Linked DNA regions of Homo sapiens. The protein of the gene in region 1 interacts with the protein of each later gene in a biochemical or structural test. Each region holds a gene or a part of one and is shown in the gene's direction. Other genes may lie near its edges. The genes, in order: APBA2, JAM2, GNG4, SCN5A, NCBP2L, FAT1 and ABCC6.

Region 1 (3,500 bases):
TGCCCAGGTGTGTAGCCTGGGAGCAATGGCCTGTAACCTATAGCCAAGGTGTGGAGTAGGTTTGTATAAAGTATGCTCTATGATGTTTGCACAATGATGAAATTGCCTAATGACAAATTTCTCAGAACACATCCCTGCCATTAAGCGATGCATAACTGTGTGTATATGTGTGTGTGTGTGTGTGTATGTGTACGTATATATGTGTGTATGTATGTGTATATATATATAAAATTTTTTTTATTTGGTTGGTTTTACATTCCTGGAATTGACTCTCCAGCAGGGCAGCTGTAAATATGAATTCCTCCGAACTGTTGTATGCATTGTTAATTTAGTAAAGTACAGTTTATGGTTTCCCACCGTTGGTTTAATTGTCAACTGTCTTGGAAAAATCCATTGTTGCAAAAACAGGAAAACCACTAATTGAGTGAATGCGTGCATTTAGGGATGATGGATTTCTCAGGTCTCTCTGGAAGCAAGTGTGTGCCTTGTGCAAATAAAACATAGTTTCTGTTTCTCAGTCTTTTGCTGTAATAAGTGAGCCATGTGCTCTAGCATCTGTCTGGATTATCCGGAGCTGGTGGCAGCTGTCACGGGTGTGGTGCAGTGGGGCCAGGCATGTGTTAGGAACTGGAAGCTCTGGGAAGCCAGGCTTTGCCTCCACGTGTGAGCCAGCTGTAGAGCGTCACTGCTCAGAGTTTGTCTTGACTCATCCTGAGAAGGGCACGTGGAGATCTGTGTCCCATTCCTCACCAGCCACTGAGTTACTATGGATGGAGGAGATGAGATGTGTGCAACTGTTCTGCTACAGTAAAGCACTCAGTCAGTGCAGTCACCAGGTTTAGGGTGTGTGTGTGTTTTACCAACTTGCCTGCTGGGTTTCAGACACCTGGCACTACCTCCAGCCTCTTACTGATTCTGGCTAGTACTTGTGAAAGCCGTCAGCTGGGTGATGAATGGACCGATTTTGGCCGCAGGTCCCTGCACTTCCCATCTGGCCTGACTGCTAGATTCTGAGCCCCTGAGGCAGGACTGAGTGGGTCACATTAATGGCTGATTGTCTCGGGAATGGCATTGGGTGAAGTCGAGGTTTTCCTGACCCACAGCTCCTAGTAGAAGTGCCTTTCTTTTGTGCATGTATTGTGAAGATTCTGCCTGTGAACTTTCTCTACCCTTTGAGTCCTAAGGTTCAGGTACTTGGAGAGGAGCGTGTCATCGTTTTGCAGGTTGGATGTGCGGTTGTTGGGGAAGACATCTTTGTGCTGTGTTGGGTTGGAAGCTTTGAGAGCAGAAGCCCCTCCAGACCAAGAACTCCTGATTATGTCTCTCCCTTGGGCTTTCGCAGTTTTCAGCTTCTAAATTAATTGCATTTTATTAAGTAATGGTTTTCTTCTTGATCACAGGCGTGCCTGTGCTTAATCAGCACTGACGACTGGTGCTGCTTCAGTTGATTTGATACACCTAGAGGCAGCCTCATCTCCAACTTGCCTTGACTTCGTCTGGGGAGCTGCCGTGGGGGACCCCTGGACTGGCAGCATTCCCACCCCTCACTTTGGCAACCCTGGTCTAACTCCGTACGTGTTACTCCTTTTATCTGTCACATAGGGTGGCTTAATCTAATAGTGGAAACAAAGGGGTGCGGGACACTAACATGGTAGGTCTCACCTTGCCTGTCATTCACCTCTCAGTCCTTTGACACTCAAGGACTCTGCAGTGGTAGAACCGGGGGCAGGTACCCTTCACTTTTCTTACCCCCGAGTCCCTTTGCCTGGAGCTCTGTCCATCCATCCACCCATCTACTCAGTAGGTATTTTCTGAGCAGCTACTGTATTCCAGCTTTCTTGTTCCCAGTTTAGAGCTGGGTGGGATCAGGAGGGAGGGCATGGAGGGGGCTGCTGGAGAATGTGCAGTGGCATCAGAGCCCCATTCTGGCTCTGGGTCCAAGGCCCTCCTAGAGAGGCACAGTCTGGCAGATGTGAGAGCCCCATGGTAGGTTGGGGTGGATCATGGACCCCATCCTATAAGAGTGGGTGGGTTTACCCCTTCAGAGCCCAGGCCAGAAGAGCCCTCCAGGCAAAGGGCCAGCCTGGAATGGGGCACCCTGGGCACAGGGGGGACTATGTGGTTTGTGTAGGTTAGAGCTGGAGATGGGGGTTGGAGGGCAGTTGCTGACGATTAGGAGCTTGGTGGCCCTAGAGAGTCCTTGCTGTGGGTTGGGAGCGAAGCAGATGGGCCAATAACAACGCATAGTTTACCAAGCGAACTCTAGGAGAGTGATTTCTGCAGCTGGCTTCCCTAGCAGACAGGTCAGAGCGTGGGAGAAGGACGCCGTTAGGGGCATGTTCAGGGGTGCATCTAGAGGCGAGGGGAGGGTGCGGGGAGGTGCTGGTGGAAGATGCACTGCATGGGGTGGGGAGGGGCTCAGTAAGAACACAGGAGGGTGGCGGGGGCAGGTGTCTGGCCAAGGCAGCTCCTGCGTCATTGGGGGGCTCCAGAGCCCGCTCCCTATGTTCTGTAGGAGGCGGCTGCTGCTGCCAAGTCCCAGCCTTGCTAGTGAGGACGTTTAATTTTACCCTTTAGAGATTTACAGGATTTCTAGATTAACTTGCCCCTGTTTTTCTAAAAGAACGACAAAATCCATGACAAACCGTTCATCACATTATTAACTGGCTCACCCAGCCTTAACCTGTGCAGCTCCGCCAACTTACCCTCGGCACACAGGGAGGCCTGGGTCCCCAGGCAGCTCCAGTGTGCAGGGGTGTGGGTGACAGCGCAGGTGTGGCCTCCCTGCTGCTGGCCTCCGGTGGCTGGCCTCAGCCTGGCTGGGCACGCAGGCTGTCCTTACGGGGCTCCCAGTAGCTTTCTGGTCCTGCGTCAGGAGAGGGGACTGCACAGGGCTTGGGAAAGAGAGCGGGAGCAGCAGTGCCGCAGGATGATGGGCTCCAGAGGCCTCTGCAGCAGGGGTACTCTGGGGAGACATTCGGGTGCCTCCTGTCCATGGCCTCGATGTGCCAGGGCGCCTGCAGCTTGGACCCTCTTCCCCTTTCAGGCGGAGGGAGCTGTTCATCCTCTGGGGGCTGCTGGGCCAGAAATATCTCTTACCTGATAATGTCAGGCATCAGAGGTTCCTGTTTCGTGGGTAAGTTGCTGTATGTTTTGGGGCTGCAGTCAGTCTGTTTTTCTCACTGGCATGGCATGGGGGTGGGGGGCAGTATTCCCTCCCATGAGGCCCATGTCCACCTCATTATCTCTGTCTGCTGGGACTGCGCTGGATGCTGGCTGAGGCTGCCTTTGTTACTTTCATGCGCCATAACTGGAAAGGCCTGCTGCTTGTTAGGCTCCTTAGAATTCTGATTTGAAGGCTGGGCATGGTGGTTCATGAGGTAATCCCAGCACTTTGGGAAGCCGAGGAGGGAGGCTCGCTTAAGCCCAGGAGTTTGAGACCAGCCTGGGTAACGTAAGGAGACCCCATCTCTACAAAAAAATAGAAAAGTTAGTCGGAT
Region 2 (2,903 bases), on another chromosome or scaffold:
CACTAACACACCCACAGAAAGGAGGAAGCGGGATGGGTCTTATGCCCAAGGATTTGCACTTTGTGTTTACTTCCATTCCTGGGAACTAAAAGCAACATCAAAAGAAATGCCTAATGGCTGGAGCCCACAGGTGTGCACCACAGGATTTGCCTGGTGTGTGTCACTGATTTCTTCATTAAACGTAATTTAGATGGTCAAACACAAACCCAAGTGGCTTATTTCACCCCTACTGCTGCTTGCCACTGCTTCCTTCTTGTAAGATTTCTTTGAAGAGGATCAGTGACTTTGACATCAGAACTCACCACTGGAGCCTACACAAGTTTGCAGATACCTTTCCCTGCAGGAGTGGTGACTTCACATCTTTCTGTCTCTAAAAATTGTGCAGTGACATTCCGGGCCAAGTCCCTTAGTCAGGGGTTGACAATTCTGCTTTTGGACAAGGAGGGATGTGGAGGGAAGAAGTAATAGTCTACCAGGAAAATGAGACGAAAAAGCTCAGTATGACTCCCTGCATCTGGTACCCCTCTTGAAACACAGTGGGCACATGAGCAATGGCTCAAACGAAAAGTGGATCTAATGTGGGTTTCTCAACCGATGAACCACAAAAGCTTCCAGCTACTATTACAATGTGAAAATTCCAATGATCCGTTTACCAGAGCAATTAGACTATGTTAAAAATTCATATCATTTGTAACTTCTTTTAATTACTGAATTGATATTAAAAACAAAATATGGCTAGGGCATGTCCTATTCTTCTGGGCAAATGTGGATGAAAAGGTCACTTGCTACCTTTGACAACTATGAACATGATGGTTAATCTTCTTTCTTTTTTTTTTTTTTTTTTTGAGACGGAGTCTCACTCTGTCGCCCAGGCTGGAGTACAGTGGCACAATCTTGGCTCACTGCAACCTCCGCCTCCCCTCCGCCTCCCAGATTCAAGCACTTCTCCTGCCTCAGCCTCCCAAGTAGCTGAGATTATAGGCGTGTACCACCACACCTGGCTAATTTTTGTATTTTAGTAGAGAAGGGTTTCACCATGTTGGCCAGGCTGGTCTCAAACCTCTGACCTCAAATGATCCACCCCCATCAGCCTCCCAAAGTGCTGGGATTATAGGCATGAGCCACTGCACTGGGCAGGTTAATCTTCTTTCAAAAGAGTCTGCTCTTTCTACCCAATTGGCGAAGCAAATCCCCAGGATTCACCGAACAAATGGATTAAGCACCCACTGAGTGCCTAGCATGTGCCTGGACACCAGGCCACCGGGAAGATGCTCCCCCTTTGACTTGTCTATGACATGCTATGTCTCTCACCAGATCCCTTCCTGGAGGTCGGGCTTCTGTAACATGGCTCTGCCCCCAAAATAAAATTTTCACCACGAGTCAGGGATCGGCAAACATTTTCTGTAAAGAGCCAGAAAGTAGATATTTTAAGTCATAAGGTCCCTGTTAACAACTACTTGACTCTGCCATTGTAGCACAAAGGCAGCCACAGACAAAACAAGCAAGTAGTCATGTCTGTGTTCCAATAAGACTTTATTTACAAAAACAGCAGGCACAGACAAGATTTGGCCCACAGGCATAGATTCCCAACTCATGGTGGTGAAGTACAGAAAAAAACACCTGTCTACAAGCTTTTGTAAGAAATCAGGCTAAATGTTACCTATGTTTTGGTTGGAAGATTTCTTTGGTTTGAGGAATGCTTTCCTCTTGCATTGGCATGCCAAGAGGATAGATGACTCTGAAAGACGCCTCTTCAGACATACCTGTCATCACACAAGATCAACTTCTTCAGTTTAAATGACACAAATCCATATTGTGGAAGGAAAATATGTAGTGCCTTAGCTTCACTAATAGTTGTAAAACTTCTTTTTAAGACATCAAAGGCTAGAGGATTCATTTTATGCAGTGCGAACATCTAATAACACTCTCTGTGTCAAATATATATTGTACATTACCTTAAACTATTGTAATAGCTAGGTAAAAATCCTTGTATAAAAGAATGTTTTCCCCCACACAAAGGGCAGAGTATTGAGCACTAATTTCCTATTAAAAGTATATATATGTATCTGTGGGTCACTGGTGTCCAGACTTGTATTTGCATTTGTGTTTACTTGAGGAACTTGAACACTAACAACTGGTAAAATCCCATTGTAATTCTTACAGCATTTTGACTTTATTTTCCTGCAGTGAATTGTGTTGTGTAAAGATTAGGGCTTTAAAATCTTATTAGCAAGCTTTGTTTTGTTTTAATTATTGTTGCTGTTGTAACTAGATTTAATTTATTTTTAGTTGGAGGTTTGACCTAAGTCTGGACCAATTGATTGCTTTTCAATACAACTTTGCAAAGAACTTCCTTTTTCCACAGGTGGCTTTGTTCGATTAAAGTCTACACTAATAAAAATAGCTGAACTTGTTAAACTTTTTAGCCCCATATAACAGTGCAGGGAAAGAGTCATCCACCTATTGTTATTCATAAAACCCAGGAAACTACACCCTCTTACCTTCTGTAGCTACAAGGCTAGCTGCTGGTTAGCTGCTTAAGATTAGAATGTCATCATCTCTGGATGGCTGCCAACTTCTCAAATGCTGAGAAAAATGCTCTGAAAATAAAAAGCAACAACTATTTATTGAACACTTTATATATGTCAGAGGTGGGGATGGATGGGGGTGAGGATGTAGAAAATCTCATTCATCTCAGCGATACTATAAAGTGGGTAATGTCATCATTTTGCAGATGAGGAAACAAGAGTTACTGACTTGTCAAGTTCATGGAGCTGAGGAGTGAGGAATCAGGGTCTGTGGGGACCCAGATCAGTCTGATCCAGGATGTTTCACACACCATGTTTTTCTCTACCCCCAGGCTGACTTCCTTTTAAATTCTTTGCTGTTATTGTTGAGATGGG
Region 3 (3,500 bases), on another chromosome or scaffold:
CTATAATGTATACACGTATCAAAACATCATGTTGTACACCATAAATATATTCCATTTTTATTTGTCAATTATAAATAAGGAATTCTACTTTTTTTTTTTTTTTTTAGAGACAGGGTCTTGCTCTGCCACCCAGGCTGGTGTGCAGTGGTGCGATCACAGCTCACTGCAGCCTTGAACTCCCGGACTCAAGCGATGTCCCTGCCTCAGCCTCCCAAGTAGCTGGGACTGCCGGTGTGCACTATCATGCCTGGCTAATTTTTTCATTTTATGGTAGAGTCTTGTTATGTTGCCCAGGCTAGAGTCGTACGTATAAGAAGAATTAAATGACATAATACATCTGATGCATGTAGCATAGTGCTGGCACCTGAGAAGCACTCAGTAAATGTAAATGTTAGCTTCTATTTGTATTATGGTTTTATCCAGCTGCCTCCTGAGCTTGTTTAATATGGGTCAGCCACAAGAGATGATCTATTCTGAGTGTGCCAGGAAATTGTGTTTCTGGGCCCAGAAGTCCAGTGATTGCCCTCTGAAGAAAGGGGGCAGATTCACCAAGGTGTCCTCTACTGTCTGGGACTGGACAGGTTGTCAGATGCCCCGTCTCCTGGCCTCTCATCATGGATCCACAGTGGCGTGCAAGTGTTCTTTTGTGACATTTCAGCACACATGGATTATTATAGTGACTTCATCATGTTTGAGATCACAGTGAGATCTTCTAGAGGGCAAAACTGTTGCCTTATTCTTTCTCTTGCATCCTCTGAATTAGCTAAAGGGTAGATAGTGAATACTTCCTTTCTGAATGACATAACGAGGATTATAGAGAATTCAGATGAAACTGGAGCATGTCCAAAAAAAATGAAGTAGATGGGAAAAGTGAAAACTAGAAAACTGGAGAGGGCATGATAGTCAGACGAGACGTTCTTTTTTTTTTTTTTTTTTTTTGAGATGGAGTTTCACTCTTGTTGCCCAGACTGGAGTGCAGTGGCACAATCTCAGCTCATTGCAACTTCCAACTCCCGAGTTCAAGCGATTCTCCTGCCTCAGCCTCCTGAGTAGCTGGGATTACAGGCACCCGCCACCACGCCTGGCTAATTTTTTGTATTTTTTGTAGAGACGGGGTTTCACCATGTTGGCCAGGCTGGTCTTGAACTCCTGACCTCAGGCGATCCACCCGCCTTGGCCTCCCAAAGTGCTGGGATTACAGGTGTGAGCCACTGCGTCCAGCCGAGCCATTCTTAAACGGAACTCCCAGAAGAGCTCACTGGAGTCAGGGGCCTAGACTTAGCAAACCCAAGAGGACAGTGGCTCCTAGAGGAGGAATGTGGTTGTTCCAACACTGCAGCCCTTGTGTGTGCTGCCCAGGCAGCAGTGAAGACCACTGCCCAGGGGTTGCCAGAGGGGTCAATGGATGAATTTAGTGGCTGTCCTAACATGGTGGCCATGAGGGAGACCCCAGACCTCAGCAGCTTCTGCATCTCTGGGCATGGTGAGAAGCCAGGAGTGGAAACTAAGGAGGTCATCACTCCAGCAGTTGGGGAGGGCACTTGGCTTTCCTTAGAAGGTGGCAGCAAGGGAGGGCTCAATCTCCCAAGTCCACCGGCTTTGAGTTGCAGCACTCACCATGTGATTCCATTCTCTTGTGTGTCCATCGCAGCCCTGTGGGCCTCAGAGTCCATTTCCTTAAGCCTGTGCTCCTGCTCCTTGTGATGGCTTCACAGGCCCCCCACAGGCTCAGTTTTCCCCTGAGCCTCACCCATCTGGGAAATTCCTATATGGGCGTCCTGTAACCCACTGCAAACTTCAAACACTCCTATTCAACTCAACATACACGTTTTTAGGATCTTAAATACTGACCATGCTATTAAAGGTAGAATCATAGACGTCTTAGAGTAAATTGGGACCTTAGAGCTCTCCAACGCTCCTGAATTTTACAAATGAGGGAAGTGAAGCTCAGAAAGGTTGAGCTGCTTACCCAAGGTCACACAGCTAGCTTACGGGCGGGGGTAGATCTAGAAGCCTGATGTTCACCGGAACTCATTTCTCCATGCCACATTCTTAACAAATGTAGGTTTTGTCAGGATTTAGACTAACTCATCTGCTAAACTTCAAGTTGATTTATTTGAGTGATGTGTTTAGTTGATTCATTGTATATCTCTGCTGGAATTATTTCTAGCCATTGCTAAAGCGGTTAGGTCTGAAAATCAGAAGAATCTCTGTAAAATGCTGAAAGATGAGCCAATTTTTAAAACCCAGAAGGGAATGTGTATGGCCTGTGTAGCTGGAGGCTTCTAAACATTTTTTTTCTTCATCTGTGGAACATTTTTATCATTCTGGGGAAGATTTAGACATTGAATGTACTAAAAGGATTTCATTTGACTGCTATGTATTTACCCCTGCCTGTAATCCGCTAATAAATACTCGCAGGCAGAACAGCCTAATTGGCAGGATGAGTTAATGCACAGGCCATTTATCTGCCAAGCACATGACACAGACCATGAACAAAATAAGCTGGTAACTGCCTCTCCCTCTTAGCAAATGCTTGTCCGCACCCCGCCCTCTCCCAACCTGCTCTTCCTCTGGCCTTGAGCTTGGGGACAGTTTGATGCACAACTGCCATGCGCCAGCAGGCTTCAGATAAGCCTGGAAAGAAATGGAATGGAAAGAACTTTCTGGTCAGGAGCACCTCTCTCCGCAGGGAAGTGGCCACTCCAAGTTAAAACATGTGTGCTGGCTGGGCACGGTGGCTCATGCCTGTAATCCCAGCACTTTGGGAAGCCGAGGTGGGCAGATCACCTGAGGTCAGGAGTTTGAGACCAGCCTGGCCAACATAGTGAAACCCCATCTCTACTAAAAATACAAAAATTAGCTGGGCATGGTGAGTGCCTGTAATCTCAGCTACTTGGGAGACTGAGGCAGGAGCATCACTTGAACCCAGGAGATGGAGGTTGCAGTGAGCGGAGATCACGCCACCACACTCTAGCCTGGGCAACAGAGCGAGACTCTGCCTCAAAAAAAGAAATAAAAATGAAAAATGAATAAAAATAAAACGTGTGCTTATAAAATATAGCTAAATACAAGTTCTGTTGAGGAGGATGAAGTGTCTCTCTGTGTTGGTCACAAGAGTGGATTGCAATAAAACAACTAATAATGATAATAAATATGATCACACTGGCTTGGCCAGGGGCTGCCTTCTGCTTTAGTCTTCCAGAAACGGTTTAGCAAAGTCATTGTGAGACTACTGTCCTGGAACCTCCACTCCTCACCTACTCGAGAATATATCAAGGCTGTCTGGGCCTCCTGCCAGCCCTCAGTCCTGTCTCCATGCTGGCCTGCCATGCGAGGGCAGCCTCCCCTTCTTGGAGGCCCGCTTCGAACCAGTCTCCTAGATCTGCACAAACCCTCCCTCCAGCCTGGGCATGACCATGTTGTAGGCCGTGCACACAATACAGCCTACCCTAGGGCTTGTCCCCTCTGTACGTGGACACCTCTTCCCTGGACTCACT
Region 4 (3,500 bases), on another chromosome or scaffold:
CTGATGTGTTACTGTGTGGGAACAGCTCTGACGCTGGGTATGTGGCACCTACCACCCCGGGTCTCCTTGTCCTGCCAGGGGAGTCTCCTGGTGTTTTCTCAACTGACTGTATTTTCTATTTATGCCCTGACCCCAGGGACAGCGAGGCCTTCTTTTGTCTCCCTTACCTGCCAGGACCCTTCCCCAGCTTCCCCACCTTGCCCCCAGCACAGAGGAGACAGCTTCTGGAGAAAGGTCAGGGACAGAGCTGCAGGGAGAGCTAACGGAGCCCTGAAGGTGGGCTGGGACTGAGGGATAGCCTGGGATGCCTTCTACAGCCCCCCAACCAGCCCACCCCCAGCTCCATTCCCTTCCAGAAGCTCCCCAGAACTGCTCCCTCCAGCTCCAGTCTTCCCTCCGTTGCTGCTGATCTGTCCCTTGGAGCAAATGTGGTTTCTCCAGCAGCCTGGACTTTCCTTGAGATGCCCAGTAGCCATGTGCAGCTTCCAGGGCCCTGTGCACACCAGGGCCTGGATCACTGTGACAGTGCCATGGAGTGTTGGAGAAGGGGGTCACAGAGGGCCACCTCAAAGGAGAAGTACCAAGTTTGTTGCCTCCTTCCTGTCACCAAAGAGATTGTCTGGAGGGTCTTGGGGCATTAGCAAGACACAGAGGTCCCTTGGATGCATCCATCCACTTGCTAAGTCCCTCGTGTGTGTGTGTGTGTGTGTGTGTGTGTGTGTGTGTCATACACACATACATGCACACATGACTCCAGACCAGCATTTCCTCTTTGGAGAGAGGCTACCACCTCCAGCTCTGTGAACTGTGAATCTGCCTCAGTGAACCAGTGGCTGTGTGCACAGTTGTGCAAATGAGCTCCTGACATGGCCAAGCCCCAGCCCATCCCCTCCAGAATCATTTCTCAACCCCATGGCCCTGCCTTTGCCCTGGGCTCATCCTGTTCAGCTCAGCCGAGGCTCACTGCTCTCCCCAACCCTGCTCTCCCCCATGCCCATGCTGTACTCAACTCCTCATGGGGTAGATGGGCAGAGGAAGAGACATGAGCCAGGCTTGTGTGCTTCCTCTCTGTGAGGAGAGGCAACTTGATAGTAGCTGGGGATGGTGTGACGTATGGGCAGAAGGGAGCTTGATTTAGGCCTAGCAGAGTACATATAAGAAGAGTAAAGAGGAAGATAGTGTCCCAGTGGGAGGCACAGCACGAACAAAGTCACGGAGGCAGGATCCAGCAGCGTGGCACTAGGTTTGTGAAGCTCAGCTTCACTGAGCTGTGGGGCATAAACTGGGTTGCCCAGGGAGACAAGTCCAGCCCAGCAAGGGTCTCAAGGGCAGCAGACCCCTGACGGCATGGAACAAAGTCTCTGTGTGTGGCTGCAGGACATGTCCGGAGGGCTACCGGTGCCTAAAGGCAGGCGAGAACCCCGACCACGGCTACACCAGCTTCGATTCCTTTGCCTGGGCCTTTCTTGCACTCTTCCGCCTGATGACGCAGGACTGCTGGGAGCGCCTCTATCAGCAGGTGTGTGTGTGCCCACAAGGGACAGCAAGTGTGGGCTCAGGGTCCAGGCTACACAAGTGACTAGCCAGAAGTGGCCCCAGCAGCCTCCCCACTGGTGGGAGCTTTGGAGGGGACAGGGGACAAGGACCCTTGCTTCTGAGGGAGAAGGGATCAGCAGCAAAGAAACTTTCTTTTTGCTGGTGATGAAGTACCAGTCCCTTTGTATAGGATGCTCTCTGCTCTGTGAGTGGGACACTCTTTCTCCCTGTAGGATGGAATATTCTCCCTCTGTGGGCACAGCATGCCCTGAGTTGGGTGGAACATTCTGCCTCCCTCCTCAGGTGGGACACAGTCCCGCTGTGTGCAGGTCATTCTCCTCTGCAGGTCAGTACATGTCCCTCTCTATAGGTGGGACATCTCTACCCTCCTCCCTAGGCTATGGCTATTTGAACCCCTGGCACAACTAGACTAGGTGACTTGGAAATGCCATAACCCAGAAGGGGCCCCAGTGAGGGTGACCTCTGCCCCCTTGCTCCCCCAGACCCTCAGGTCCGCAGGGAAGATCTACATGATCTTCTTCATGCTTGTCATCTTCCTGGGGTCCTTCTACCTGGTGAACCTGATCCTGGCCGTGGTCGCAATGGCCTATGAGGAGCAAAACCAAGCCACCATCGCTGAGACCGAGGAGAAGGAAAAGCGCTTCCAGGAGGCCATGGAAATGCTCAAGAAAGAACACGAGGTGGGTGAGCAGTGCCACCGAGGAGCCTCTAAGCCCTCACCTGACTGTAGGTGCCTATAGGTGGGGTATATGCCAGTTAAAGCTGGTGCCTGTGGGCGTGGTACATGCTGGGTAAAGCTGGTGCCTGTGGGCATGGTGCATGCTGGGTAAAGCCAGTGCCTGTGGGCATGGTGCAGTGCCTGCTGGGTAAAGATATTTTCTGTGAATGTGGTATCGCTGAGTAAAAATTTGGAACCTGCTGGGTTAAGACGTGCCTGTTAGTGAGGAGCCTACTAGGTAAAAGTGACATCTGCTGGGTAAGGTGGGTCCTATGAGTGTGGCTTGTGCTGAGTAAACTTGTTCCCTATGGTCGTCATGTCCTCCAGGTGAAGGTGGCGCCAGCTGGGTAAAAATGGTGCCTGCTGGGTGGTAGCTCCTGGGTAAAGATGGTCCCTGTGAGCATAGTGCATGCTGGATAAGAGATGCATGTATACATGCACATAGTTTATTCTGGTCAAGGGATGCCTTCTGGTGGGGTAGTGAAGAAGGTCCAATGTCAGAGAACAGAGCTGTCTCAGAAAATAAGCACTGACAATGCTGCCCTAGCCATCCCTAGTCCCCCACATGGTGGAGCCTGGAGGCTGGCTATAGAGTGAGCTATTAGAAGCCAGAGCTATTAGAAGCATCCACTTGTTCTTCTCACTACCCCATGCCACATATTCCAGTACACTTTTGGCCAGCTAAACCTTCTAGAAGAGCCTCTGCCTTCTGGTTCTGCCACTTCTCTGCTCATCTACACCCACCTCCCACCTGTTCCACACACTCCAGTCTTCCGAGGCTGCCCACTTTAGCCACTCCTATCTTCCTTCCTGGATCTTGATCTTTCCCAAAACATTCTGGGTCTGTCTGAGTTTATCTCCATGATGTCCTCATTTTGGGGTAGGTGTGCAAGTCCACTTACTGATAGGGAAAACCAAGTCACTGAGAGTTGCCTGGCCTGCCTGAGCCTGAGGCTGCACAAAGTCTCAATGATGGAAACGTCCGTTCCTCCACTCTTTTCCAGGCCCTCACCATCAGGGGTGTGGATACCGTGTCCCGTAGCTCCTTGGAGATGTCCCCTTTGGCCCCAGTAAACAGCCATGAGAGAAGAAGCAAGAGGAGAAAACGGATGTCTTCAGGAACTGAGGAGTGTGGGGAGGACAGGCTCCCCAAGTCTGACTCAGAAGATGGTCCCAGAGCAATGGTAATCCCAGCTGTGGTTCTAGCTTTTCCAGGGTGGGTCTG
Region 5 (3,500 bases), on another chromosome or scaffold:
TAAAGGTAAGGCATGTAGTAACACTACTGTCCCAGCGCTTTCTAATTTCCTTTCTTAGAGCTACTGCCTTCATCTGGAGCAGAAAGTAGCCTGGCTTTTTAAAGAGTCCAGATCCTTGTTCCTTTCACATAGTTGAAACAATCCCAGCATTAGTTTAAGGCAACCATTGAAAAGATTCTTTGCAGAGTCCTGCCAACTCCAAAAGCCCAGTGAAGTTTGTTTCCTGGAAGATAATTTACTTTATTTTGCCACCTCCTCTCCTCCGTCCTCTTAGGATTTTGACTGATCATTTTGAGCCATTCTTCATGTTTTTCTTCTATTTTTAGACTCTCTGACTAATTTTCTCCAGTAGCAAGAGTCAAGGAAAGCTTTCCACTCCAACCAAGCTCTACTTTTTAGGTAGGAAATATTCTCTCACAGTGTTTACAGATCAACTTGGTGATCTGTGGTCCCTGGCAACTGGATTGCTTTTCTATCTTCTCTTTAACCTTTGGGGATGTTAACCTTGGGGGTGACCCTTCTAACACCTTTAGCAGGTAGGTGTTCATTGCAGCCTCCACATGAATAGATTAGGTAAGTTCACATTCTATCACTGGATGAATTAAAAACTCTGCTAAAAAAGAATTGTAATCTTCTGTTTTTAACTTCTATCCATTAATCTTACTTTTATCATATGGAGCAGAAATAGCACTTTCAATATTTCAAGACATTTGTCATATCCTCCTTTAACCATCTCTTTGCTAGACTAAACATCCCCAATTTCTAATCAGTCCTCAGTTACTTCTTGACCCTTCATTCATTCAATAAACATCAGATGCACTATGATTTGTAAATGTTCACTTTAAAATACAGTACCTCGAAATGGAACGTAGTGCTCGCTGTGTAGTTTGACCAGCATGGAGCACATTGGGACTGCCACTCCTTGTGATGGTCTGATGCAATTTCATGATCATACCAGCTTAAAAAAGAGTAACTCACTTCTTCACATCTAGTGAGTACCTACTTTGGGTCAGGTACCTAACATCAACTAGAAACCTCTGTTTTCAGTGGTAGAGGTTCTCTGTTCTTTCTTACCCCATGGGGCCTGGAGATGGTACAGCCACCCTCTTCCAATCCTTCCTACTATCATCTGCTGTACTTTAGTTCTCTCACCTATTGAGGACTTCACCTCCTCACTGATAGTCTTCCTTTCCACCCCAACTCTAGCCACCATCCTGAGTGATCTTAATGTCCTCATAGATGACCCATTTATAAGCTTCATCCTTTCAATCATTTTACCTCCACTCTGCTTCACCAACTATTTTCAATGATCCACTTTATTCTCAGCAGATGATCTCACCTCTTATTCCATTATGAAAATCTAGGTCGTTGGATGCTAACACTCATTTTCCTGTCCTAACCCCACCCTGCCACATAGTTGTGTCCCTACATGTCCTAACCTCTTTTTTTTTTTTTTTTTTTTTTTGGGCTTGCAGAAATACACATAGCTTCTCCAGTTCAAGGCTAATTTCTCTACGTATGCTTTGGAGCCCATTCTTTCTCACCTCCATGAGGACTTACTTCATCAGTTATCCCTCCTCTCATCTGTGTCTTCAACAACTCCTTCTCTACTTACTGGCTGCTTCCCATCAACCTTCAGGCATGATCAACTTTCACTCTAAAAAAAGAAACAAACAAATTTTCCTTCGCCTCTATCCCCAACTGGCATTTGCCCTATTTCTCTTCTTTTATTGTTATGGAATCTTTTCTAAAGTGTAGACACTCTCCATTTCCTCACCTCCTGTTAAAAACTCAGCTCCCACTATGGCTTTTCTGTTCCCAGAACACCACTGTTATTTCTCTTTTAAGTAAACCAATGACATCCTAATTGCCAAATCTAATGAACAATGTTAAGTCTTTATTTTACTGGACCTCTCTCTGATGTATTTAACATAATTGATTGCTCTCACCCTACTTCTGTCCTCATGACTCTCATGACCTACTCCTTGGCTTTGGTGATGTTGCACATCTTCTGACTGTCCTCATTCCTCTCTGATTACTCCTTCTTATGCTGTTTTGTGGACTTTTCGTCTGCCACCCCTTAAATGCCAGTCTTTCCCAGGTTTTTTCATTCCTCACCTTTCCCCTAGATCATCTCATCCATACCCATGGTTTTATCTACCATCCTATTGAGCCCCAAATCTGTGTCTGTGGTCCCAGACACAGACCTCTCTTGAGAGCTCCAAACCCATATACTAGTTAATACTTGACACGTGTAATATGGCACATCCTACAGGTACCTCAAGACCAAACTCAGTATGTTCCAAATTCATCTTTTTTATTCCAATCTGCCCTTCCTCCTCTGTCTGCCCAACTGACACCATTTTGGTGACTCAGACCTCTATCTACACAGTTGACCTCTATCTACACAGTGCTGAAACTCGGTAGTCATCCTGAATTTCTCATTCAACCAGTCACCAAGACCTGTTCAGTCTGTCTTCTAAGTATCTATCTGAGATGTGTTTCCTTTATGTTACTACAGCATATTATTAGTCCAGGCTTTCCATAATCTTTTTGTTTTTTAACCATTCAAATAGCTCCGTAACTGGTCTTCCTGCCTCTTGGCCTGCTCCCCCTTAGTCTATCCTTCACACTGTGATAGAATGCATTTTCTCTAATGCAAATCAGATCACATCACTCCTCTGCTTGAAGCCCTATCATGGTTCCCACTGCTTACTGGTACAGTCCAAGCTGCTCCACAAGGCTTACAAGGCCCCTCACAATCTGGCCTTGCCTACCCTTCCAATCTTATCTCCTATCATCTTTTCCTTATTTTCTTTGCCCAAATAACGTCAGACTGAACACCCCCCATCACGCCTTCATGCCTTCATACACACTGTTCTCTCTGCCTAGAATGACCCCTTGGTCTTCCAGTCAAATCTTTATTCAGCTTTCAAAATTGGACTCAGACTATGTCTGGGTAGATACACAAGAAACTAGTGACAATGATTGGGTGGCTGGGGCACAGGAGTGGGAAGAAGACTTCCTTTTTCCACCTATTTGTACATTCTGCATTTTGTAACACAAATCTGAATTCACTATTCAAAAAAGTAAATACTACGTAAATTTTTTGTTAAAAAAGCTCAGGAATCAGGTCCTTTAGAAAGTTGTTTTCCCCTCCTCATCCTCCTCTGTAGTTTTGTACTCCCTTCTTTGTGCTACCTCTGGGCCTACTGTGTGCTCCTGTGATTAGAATAATTACATTGCATTGCAATTTGTATGTTAAGTTGTCCATCTCCCCAGATTGTGAGCTACCTGAGGGAAAGGGCTGCATCTTACTTTTTATTGTTTCCCCAGAATTTAACATAGTGCTCTATAAATGTTGATTGAATGAATGGAGAAACAAGTGAAGAGAAGAATAAAGTAGAGGATGCCCCACATTATAAAACAAAGCTCCCATGCCAGTTATCTTTCCCAATATCCATCAATCTGTCCTTTTGCCACGTGTTGAGCTTGAAAGT
Region 6 (3,500 bases), on another chromosome or scaffold:
ACATGAGCCAGGCGTGCTGGTGGTTCCTGAGTATGTAAAATTCTGTCAGTCTAAATCTACAGACGCACCTATAGTCCCAGCTACTCAGGAGGCTGAGACGGGGGCCCGGAAAGCTCAAAGCTTCAGTGAGCCGTGATCGCGCCACTGCACTCCAGCCTGGGTGAGAGAGCGAGACTCTGTCTAAAAAAGAAAAAAAATTGAATAAATAAATGGAGGAAGATAGACAAATCAGTTTCTAGAAGAATTATAAATATTTTGAGTAGCGAAACTCTCTGTCTCTTAAGAATGGGCTACATGCAGTGACTTCCTTACCAAGAATACAGTACAGGGAGGGGTGAAAGTAACCTGACTGTGAGGAAACCTGGCAGATACTACCTCAGTCACGTGGTCAGGAGCAGCGTCAACATCGATAAATCGTGTTGATTTTACCCGCTTGCTACGGTGTGGTGGAAACGACTCTACCTCTGTGGCTTTTCTCCCCAAAACAGAACCCCAATCTAATCAGGAGAGAAACGTCAGATTCCAGTTGAGGGACATCCTACAAAATACCTGACTAGTACTTCTGGAAACTGTCCAGATCATTAAAAGCAAGGAAAATCTGAGAAACGTACATTCCAGAGGAGCCTTAGGAGACATGACAGCTAAATGTAAGGTGGTGTCTTGGAAGGGATTCTAGGATGGAGAGAAGGCCTTGGGTAAAATGAGCAAATTTGAGTGAAGTATGGACTGTAGTTGATGATGTGTCAGTACTGGTTTGTTAGTTGTATCTAGTATAATGTACTAAAGTGAGATGTTAACAGTAGGGGAAGCTCTCTTTGCAACTTTTCTGTAAGTCTAAAAGCATTCTAAAATAAGGTTTATTTTTAAAAAGAACCCCCTTCATGATAGGTTCTCTCCCAGGATGTGCCCCGGCCTTACCGCTGTCCCTCAACCGCTGTGCTCCAGCCACGTGGTCTCTTTCTGGCTTCCCTAATCTAGTGCTTCTCTGCGGGGTGTGACTTTCTGCCCTAGAGGGTGTTTGGCAATGTCTCGAGATAGAGGTATTTTTAGTCATCACAGCTGGGTGATGAGGGGGATGCCACAGGCTTCATGCTGGTGGGGACCAGGAATCATATTGAACACTCTACGTTTCCCCAAAGAATCTAAGAGTTGCCCAGCATGTCACTAGTGTAAGCCCTGACCCTTTGGATTTAGGGTTCCCTCTTTTCCTTCAGGTTCCTGACCCTGGTCTCTCTTTGCCCTGCTTTAGTTTTCTCCTTAGCACTTAATTATCAGCATCGGATATACTCTGTTTACTTGTCTGTCTGTGTCTGGCCAGGAAATGTATCTTCCATCAGGACTTGTTGGTAATTTGGTTCACTTTTGAATCCCCAGCGTCTAGAACTGCACCTGATACATAGTAGATGCTCATTAAACCTATGTAAAAGGAATTAAATAATTAATGAAAGGGGTGAGTGGATGATAAAGACAACACATACTCATGCTAAAAAAAAACCACAGTAGAGAAAAATGCCACAGTAATCATTCCCTCAGCTACCTGTTTCTCTACCGGTTCTCCAGAAGTTACCACTGTTAACAGTTGCTTGTCTGCCTAGACTTTTCTGTCCATTTTAAAGTATATCCGTGGGTACATTGTATCTACCCCCCTTCTCCTCTCTTTTAAATAAACATAAATAGGATCAGCTTCGTTTTTCCAGTTTATATAGCTAGACATATGTCAACATACAGAGTGCTATCTTTTAATGGCTGCATGATAACTTTATACGTAGAATTAAGCAAAAATACTTCTAGTACTTGCAATAGAATCCTGGTATAATATTTTGTTGTACAATGGATGATGGTAAAAATGTCTCCTAAAACATAATGTGACTCCTAAAACAAAAGACACTGCTTGCTAAACATCATCCAAGTGTTTCTGGTTTTGTTTTTTTGTTTTTGAGACAGAGTCTAGCTCTGTTGCCCAGGCTGGAGTGCAGTGGCGCGATCTCGGCTCACTGCAATCTCTGCCTCCCGGGTTCAAGTGATTCTCCTGCCTCAGCCTCTGGAGTAACTGAGATTACAGGCTTGCTCCACCATATCCTGCTAATTTTTGTATTTTTAGTAGAGATGGGGTTTCACCATGTTTTGGCCAGGCTGGTCTCGAACTCCTGAGCTCAAGGGATCCGGCTGCATTGGCCTCCCAAAGTTCTGGGATTACAGGTGTGAGCCACCGTGACCAGCCTCTTTATATGTATTTTTATTTCTAGTTTGTAAATCCCTTGGGATTGGGATCTTTGTCTTTTATTCCTTAACACCATGCAAGGTTCTGTCTGATAAGGTCCTCCATACCTGTAGGTTGAACTTTTTATTTGTTTTGATAAAATTACAAGATTATTTTATAATATTCAAATTTCCCTGAGTATTAGAACTGTTGACTAAATGGAGATACTTAAAGAGATAGTTTTGGGAGAAAATTGTTTTCTTATTTTGTTTAAATGATAATTGTTCTCCTAGAAGCCAAAAATCTGTCTAATTTCTGACTTTATCTGGAGAGGAGAAGGCATCATAGCTAAAGAACAAGTTAGGGTGGCCAACTTGAACGTGGTTCAATATCAATTAAGCTTTAATTGCTTTAAGCACATCAGGTCTTTTTTTCCCCCTAAGGCAATGACTTATGGGGCAGAGTTGGCAGTAGCTAAGTTAAGATACTATAAATTAATGTTGTCGTACCAATTTCAACTGGGCTGTCAAACCCACCCTCCAGTTTGCTCTTCATTTACCTCTGGTAGCATTCACATTTTGTGAATATTAATTTGAGAGTCACTTTGCAAGATGACAGTGCTGTCCTTTGTGAAGCTGTGTTGATTTACAAGATGAATTTGTTGGCAAAGGGGAACAGTTGATCTGAAAATAACTGTCCTGCTTCCCTGGCCAGACCTCAGCCCAGTGGACTTCGCCCACCTTCCCATTTGTCATTGTTAAAGGCAACGTTTTCTTCATTTCTTCAGTTTCTCTCTTTTCTCCGCCAGTCACCCAGGGACTGTCCTGCAGAGTCTGCCACCATGTATTAATAGACTGATTTGACCCTTGACGTGTGTTAGCTTAGAAGATTTAGCTTTTGTGTGTGTGTGTCATCTTCTCATGGAGGGGCCCAGGGTGACAGGTTGTTCGATGCCCTGAAGATAGGAGACATTCTGTGAACAACTGGTTGTTGACAGCAGTGGTGATAAAACATTGATATAGTTGGTAAAGTTTGCTTCACTGACTTAGAGAGGAAAAATGCTGTTTGACATCAGGCTGCTGAATTCTGGTTTTTCTTTTGTAAATTGCCTTTCTTTGGGGCTTATGTTGCTGATAAGTATTATACTTGATATAATTATTTTAATACTTTTAAGTAGTTACATAGAGCGAAATGAGACAATAAACCCTTACATTATGTAGGGAGTGAACTTAACCATTCTTATACAGAAATAATATAATTTCAGGATACATTTTGAAATGAGATTACAAGCTGTTCTTAT
Region 7 (3,500 bases), on another chromosome or scaffold:
GCTTCCATCTGGTGACTTCCTCATCCACCTTGGTGTCCCCAGATGAGGAAGCAACTCCGTGACTTCCTTCTTCCTTTAACATTAACCCAGCACCTAATATGTGCTGGGCAGTGTGTTAAATGCTCCAGGTACATTTTCCAGTTTGCACAAATGGGATATTTGCTTTCAGCTGGGAGACATTGGGAAAAGCACTTCATAGCTCAGTCTCAGTTTTCCCATCTGTAAATTGGGACTGGTAATACTGATCTCTGAGTTGTTGTGAAGTTTGAGTTAATACATAGAACATGCTTAGCTCATAGAAAGTGCTCCAGAAATGTTTACTAATGCTTTTATTATTTGCGTTTTCACTCTCACAACAACCCCTAAGTGAGGTGCTAGTACTATCCCATTTTACAGATGCCTCATCAGGCCCCTTCACTGAATCCCTTTCCTCCCTCCCTCTGAACCTACAGAGGCTTCCTCCCTGTCCTCTCCTTGTCCCCTAAAAAGCAGTGGATCCTGTCTCACCAGCTCCAATCTGCTCTCCTGTGATTTTTTTTTTTTTTTTTTTTTGAGACAGAGTCTCACTCTGTTGCCCAGGCTGGAGTGCAGTGGTGTGACCTTAGATCACTGCAACCTCCGCCTCCCAGATTCAAGTGATTCTCCTGCCTCAGCCTCCTGAGTAGCTGGGATTACAGGCACCTGCCACCACACCCGGCTAATTTTTGTATTTTTAGTAGAGACAGGGTTTCACCATGTTGGCCAGGCTGCTATGAAACTTCTGACCTCAATCACCCCCCTCGGCCTCCCAAAGTGCTGGGACTACAGGCATGACCCACCATGCCCAGCCATCCTGTGACCTTTATCAGCATGAATGACACTGCATGTCATTCCCCTGCTCAAAACCTTCTACTAGTTCCAGCTTCCCTTGGGGTAAAGTGTGAATTCCTGAGCTTGGCATTCAAGGCTCTACCCAACCCAGGCCCTGCCAACCTCCCCCTCTCATTCATTGCTCTGCCAGGGCTTAGCCAACATTGTGGAGCAGCTGCCTCTCGGCCAGGGGGGCACATGGTGCTGTGAGCTCCATGAGCTTCTAGTTTTGGAAACCCACTTGGTGTGGTTTACCTGGAGTGTTCCCCTTCCTTGAACTCCTATTGATCCTTCAAGCTTCCATGCAAGTATCCCTTCCTCCATGAGGTCTTCTCTTATTACCTCTGTCAAATCCCAGGCAGCATGAGCAGCACTGCCTTGCTTCCCTTAATTGCCAGAGGTCCAGACCTTGATAATAAACAGCATTGTTGGCTGGGTGCTGTGGCTTATACCTGTAATCCCAGCACTTTAGGAGGCCAAGGTGGGCAGATCACTTGAGGCCAGAAGTTTGAGACCAGCCTGGCCAACATGGTGAAATCCCGTGTCTACTAAAAATACAAAAATTAGCCGAGCATGGTGACAGGCACCTGCAGTCCCAGCTACTAGGGAGGCTGAGGCAGGAGAATTGCTTGAACCTGGGAGGTGGAGGTTGCAGTGAGCTGAGATCGCACCACTGCACTCCAGCCTGGGCAATAGAGCAAGACTTTATCTCAAAAATAAATAAATAAATAAATAAATAAAGCATTGTTCATCACACTGTATTACATTTACTCAATTGCACTGTTTCCTAGACCGGATGATGGGCACACTGGAGCAAGGACTCTTTAATTTCTATACTTCCGGTGCCTAAACAGGTACTTGGCATACAGTGGGGTGACCCACATGTTTCCATCATTAATTAAACAAATAATGTTGAACCCACACCATGTGTCAGACACTGAGGATGCAATAGTAGCAAGAGAGATAAGGATGGAGGGTGGATAACAGCATGGGAGATGGATAACAGAATGGACACATGGATAAGATGGAGGATGAATGGAAGGATGGATGAGGGAAGGATGGACTGGATGGATGGATGGGAGAAAATAAATGAATGAAAGGATTAGTGAATTGATGGATGAATAGGGAAGAAGAAACGAGAGACGGATAGACAGATGAATGGATGGATGAATGGAATGGGGTGGAAGAGAGATGGAGGGATGGGATTGAGGATGGATGATGGATGGATGGATGGCAGGATGGGGTGGAAAAAAGGATAAGGGATGGATGGACGGACAGACAGATGGATGGGATGGGGTAGAAAAAAGGATGAGAGATGATGGAGAGGTGTAAATAGAAGGATGAGGAAAGATGGAGGAACTAAAGGAAGGGTGGGGAGAAAGATGGGAGAGAGATATCAGGATAAGGGAAAGATAGAGAAGAACACAGATGGAAGACTGGATGGATTGATGGGTGGATATATAGAAAGGTAGACAGATGGAAAGAGAGATGGAAGGTAGACCTTTACACAATGAGGGATGGATAGACAGATCTCGGGTACAGCAGAAAGATCTCCCCAATAAATGCCCACAAACCCTCTGGTCAGAGCAGGCCTTTCCTCCCAACCCCGGGCAGGTGGGCATCGTTGGCAGGACCGGGGCAGGGAAGTCCTCCCTGGCCAGTGGGCTGCTGCGGCTCCAGGAGGCAGCTGAGGGTGGGATCTGGATCGACGGGGTCCCCATTGCCCACGTGGGGCTGCACACACTGCGCTCCAGGATCAGCATCATCCCCCAGGTGAGGCTGGTGGAGGGGGTGGGCAAAGATGGGAGGCATGGTGGGACCCGGCTCTGACCCACCGCCCCTCCCCGCCAGGACCCCATCCTGTTCCCTGGCTCTCTGCGGATGAACCTCGACCTGCTGCAGGAGCACTCGGACGAGGCTATCTGGGCAGCCCTGGAGACGGTGCAGCTCAAAGCCTTGGTGGCCAGCCTGCCCGGCCAGCTGCAGTACAAGTGTGCTGACCGAGGCGAGGACCTGAGGTATGGTCGTCCCACCATGGCTGGGACCTGCAGGTGGGAGAGGAGGGGATGGCCATGCCCTCCCCAAGGGCCTTCAGGAAATGCCTCCCCCGATAGGATTATCACTCTGTTACATTAATAACCACATGTCTCTTATCTGCAATTCCAAGCTCTGACACAGTCTCTGAATACCAAGGTTTTCCCCCCTAAATTAGCAGTTAGTCTTCTATATTTACTTGGTGGCAAAACCCAACCTCAACTGACACAGGGCTACTGATAGCCTTTATTGCTCTTGCTCAGTATTTATTTTGCTATGAAAATATTGTTTGATATCGGGTGGTAACCTCACCACTCACTGGGACTATAATATAGGATTTTTTTTTTTGGTAAATGTCAAGTGTGGACTGGGCACAGTGGCTCATGCCTGTAATCCCAGCACTTCAGGAGGCTGAGAGAGGAGGATTGCTTGAGCCCAGGAGTTCGAGACTAGTCTGGGCAACATAGCAAGACCCTATCTCTGTGGACAACAGTATTAGCCAGGTATGGTGGCATGCACCTGTAGTCCTAGTTACTTGGGAGGCTGAGGTGGGAAGAACGCTTGAGCCAGGGAGGCGAAGGTTGCAGTGAGCCGATATTGCACCACTGCACTCCATC

What was found.
Region 2: the proteins of APBA2 (region 1) and JAM2 interact in a test that uses a peptide from one of them, tested with the Homo sapiens proteins (one large-scale study listed by IntAct).
Region 3: the proteins of APBA2 (region 1) and GNG4 interact in a test that uses a peptide from one of them, tested with the Homo sapiens proteins (one large-scale study listed by IntAct).
Region 4: the proteins of APBA2 (region 1) and SCN5A interact in a test that uses a peptide from one of them, tested with the Homo sapiens proteins (one large-scale study listed by IntAct).
Region 5: the proteins of APBA2 (region 1) and NCBP2L interact in a test that uses a peptide from one of them, tested with the Homo sapiens proteins (one large-scale study listed by IntAct).
Region 6: the proteins of APBA2 (region 1) and FAT1 interact in a test that uses a peptide from one of them, tested with the Homo sapiens proteins (one large-scale study listed by IntAct).
Region 7: the proteins of APBA2 (region 1) and ABCC6 interact in a test that uses a peptide from one of them, tested with the Homo sapiens proteins (one large-scale study listed by IntAct).

What each region holds. Positions count from the first base shown.
Region 1 is NC_000015.10:28,892,474-28,895,973, forward strand, and holds part of APBA2 (amyloid-beta A4 precursor protein-binding family A member 2), read left to right. Parts: intron 1-3,046; exon of another isoform or gene 3,047-3,136; intron 3,137-3,500. UniProt on the Homo sapiens protein: Putative function in synaptic vesicle exocytosis by binding to STXBP1, an essential component of the synaptic vesicle exocytotic machinery. May modulate processing of the amyloid-beta precursor protein (APP) and hence formation of APP-beta.
Region 2 is NC_000021.9:25,715,160-25,718,062, forward strand, and holds the end of JAM2 (junctional adhesion molecule B isoform 1 precursor), read left to right. Parts: 3' UTR 1-2,403; downstream 2,404-2,903. UniProt on the Homo sapiens protein: Junctional adhesion protein that mediates heterotypic cell-cell interactions with its cognate receptor JAM3 to regulate different cellular processes. Plays a role in homing and mobilization of hematopoietic stem and progenitor cells within the bone marrow.
Region 3 is NC_000001.11:235,552,285-235,555,784, reverse strand, and holds part of GNG4 (guanine nucleotide-binding protein G(I)/G(S)/G(O) subunit gamma-4), read left to right. Parts: intron 1-3,500. UniProt on the Homo sapiens protein: Guanine nucleotide-binding proteins (G proteins) are involved as a modulator or transducer in various transmembrane signaling systems.
Region 4 is NC_000003.12:38,604,688-38,608,187, reverse strand, and holds part of SCN5A (sodium channel protein type 5 subunit alpha), read left to right. Parts: coding exon 1-37; intron 38-1,377; coding exon 1,378-1,519; intron 1,520-2,039; coding exon 2,040-2,237; intron 2,238-3,279; coding exon 3,280-3,459; intron 3,460-3,500. UniProt on the Homo sapiens protein: Pore-forming subunit of Nav1.5, a voltage-gated sodium (Nav) channel that directly mediates the depolarizing phase of action potentials in excitable membranes.
Region 5 is NC_000023.11:107,787,733-107,791,232, forward strand, and holds part of NCBP2L (nuclear cap-binding protein subunit 2-like), read left to right. Parts: intron 1-3,500.
Region 6 is NC_000004.12:186,710,357-186,713,856, reverse strand, and holds part of FAT1 (protocadherin Fat 1 isoform 1 precursor), read left to right. Parts: intron 1-3,500.
Region 7 is NC_000016.10:16,153,995-16,157,494, reverse strand, and holds part of ABCC6 (ATP-binding cassette sub-family C member 6), read left to right. Parts: intron 1-1,640; exon of another isoform or gene 1,641-1,703; intron 1,704-2,463; coding exon 2,464-2,622; intron 2,623-2,700; coding exon 2,701-2,867; intron 2,868-3,500.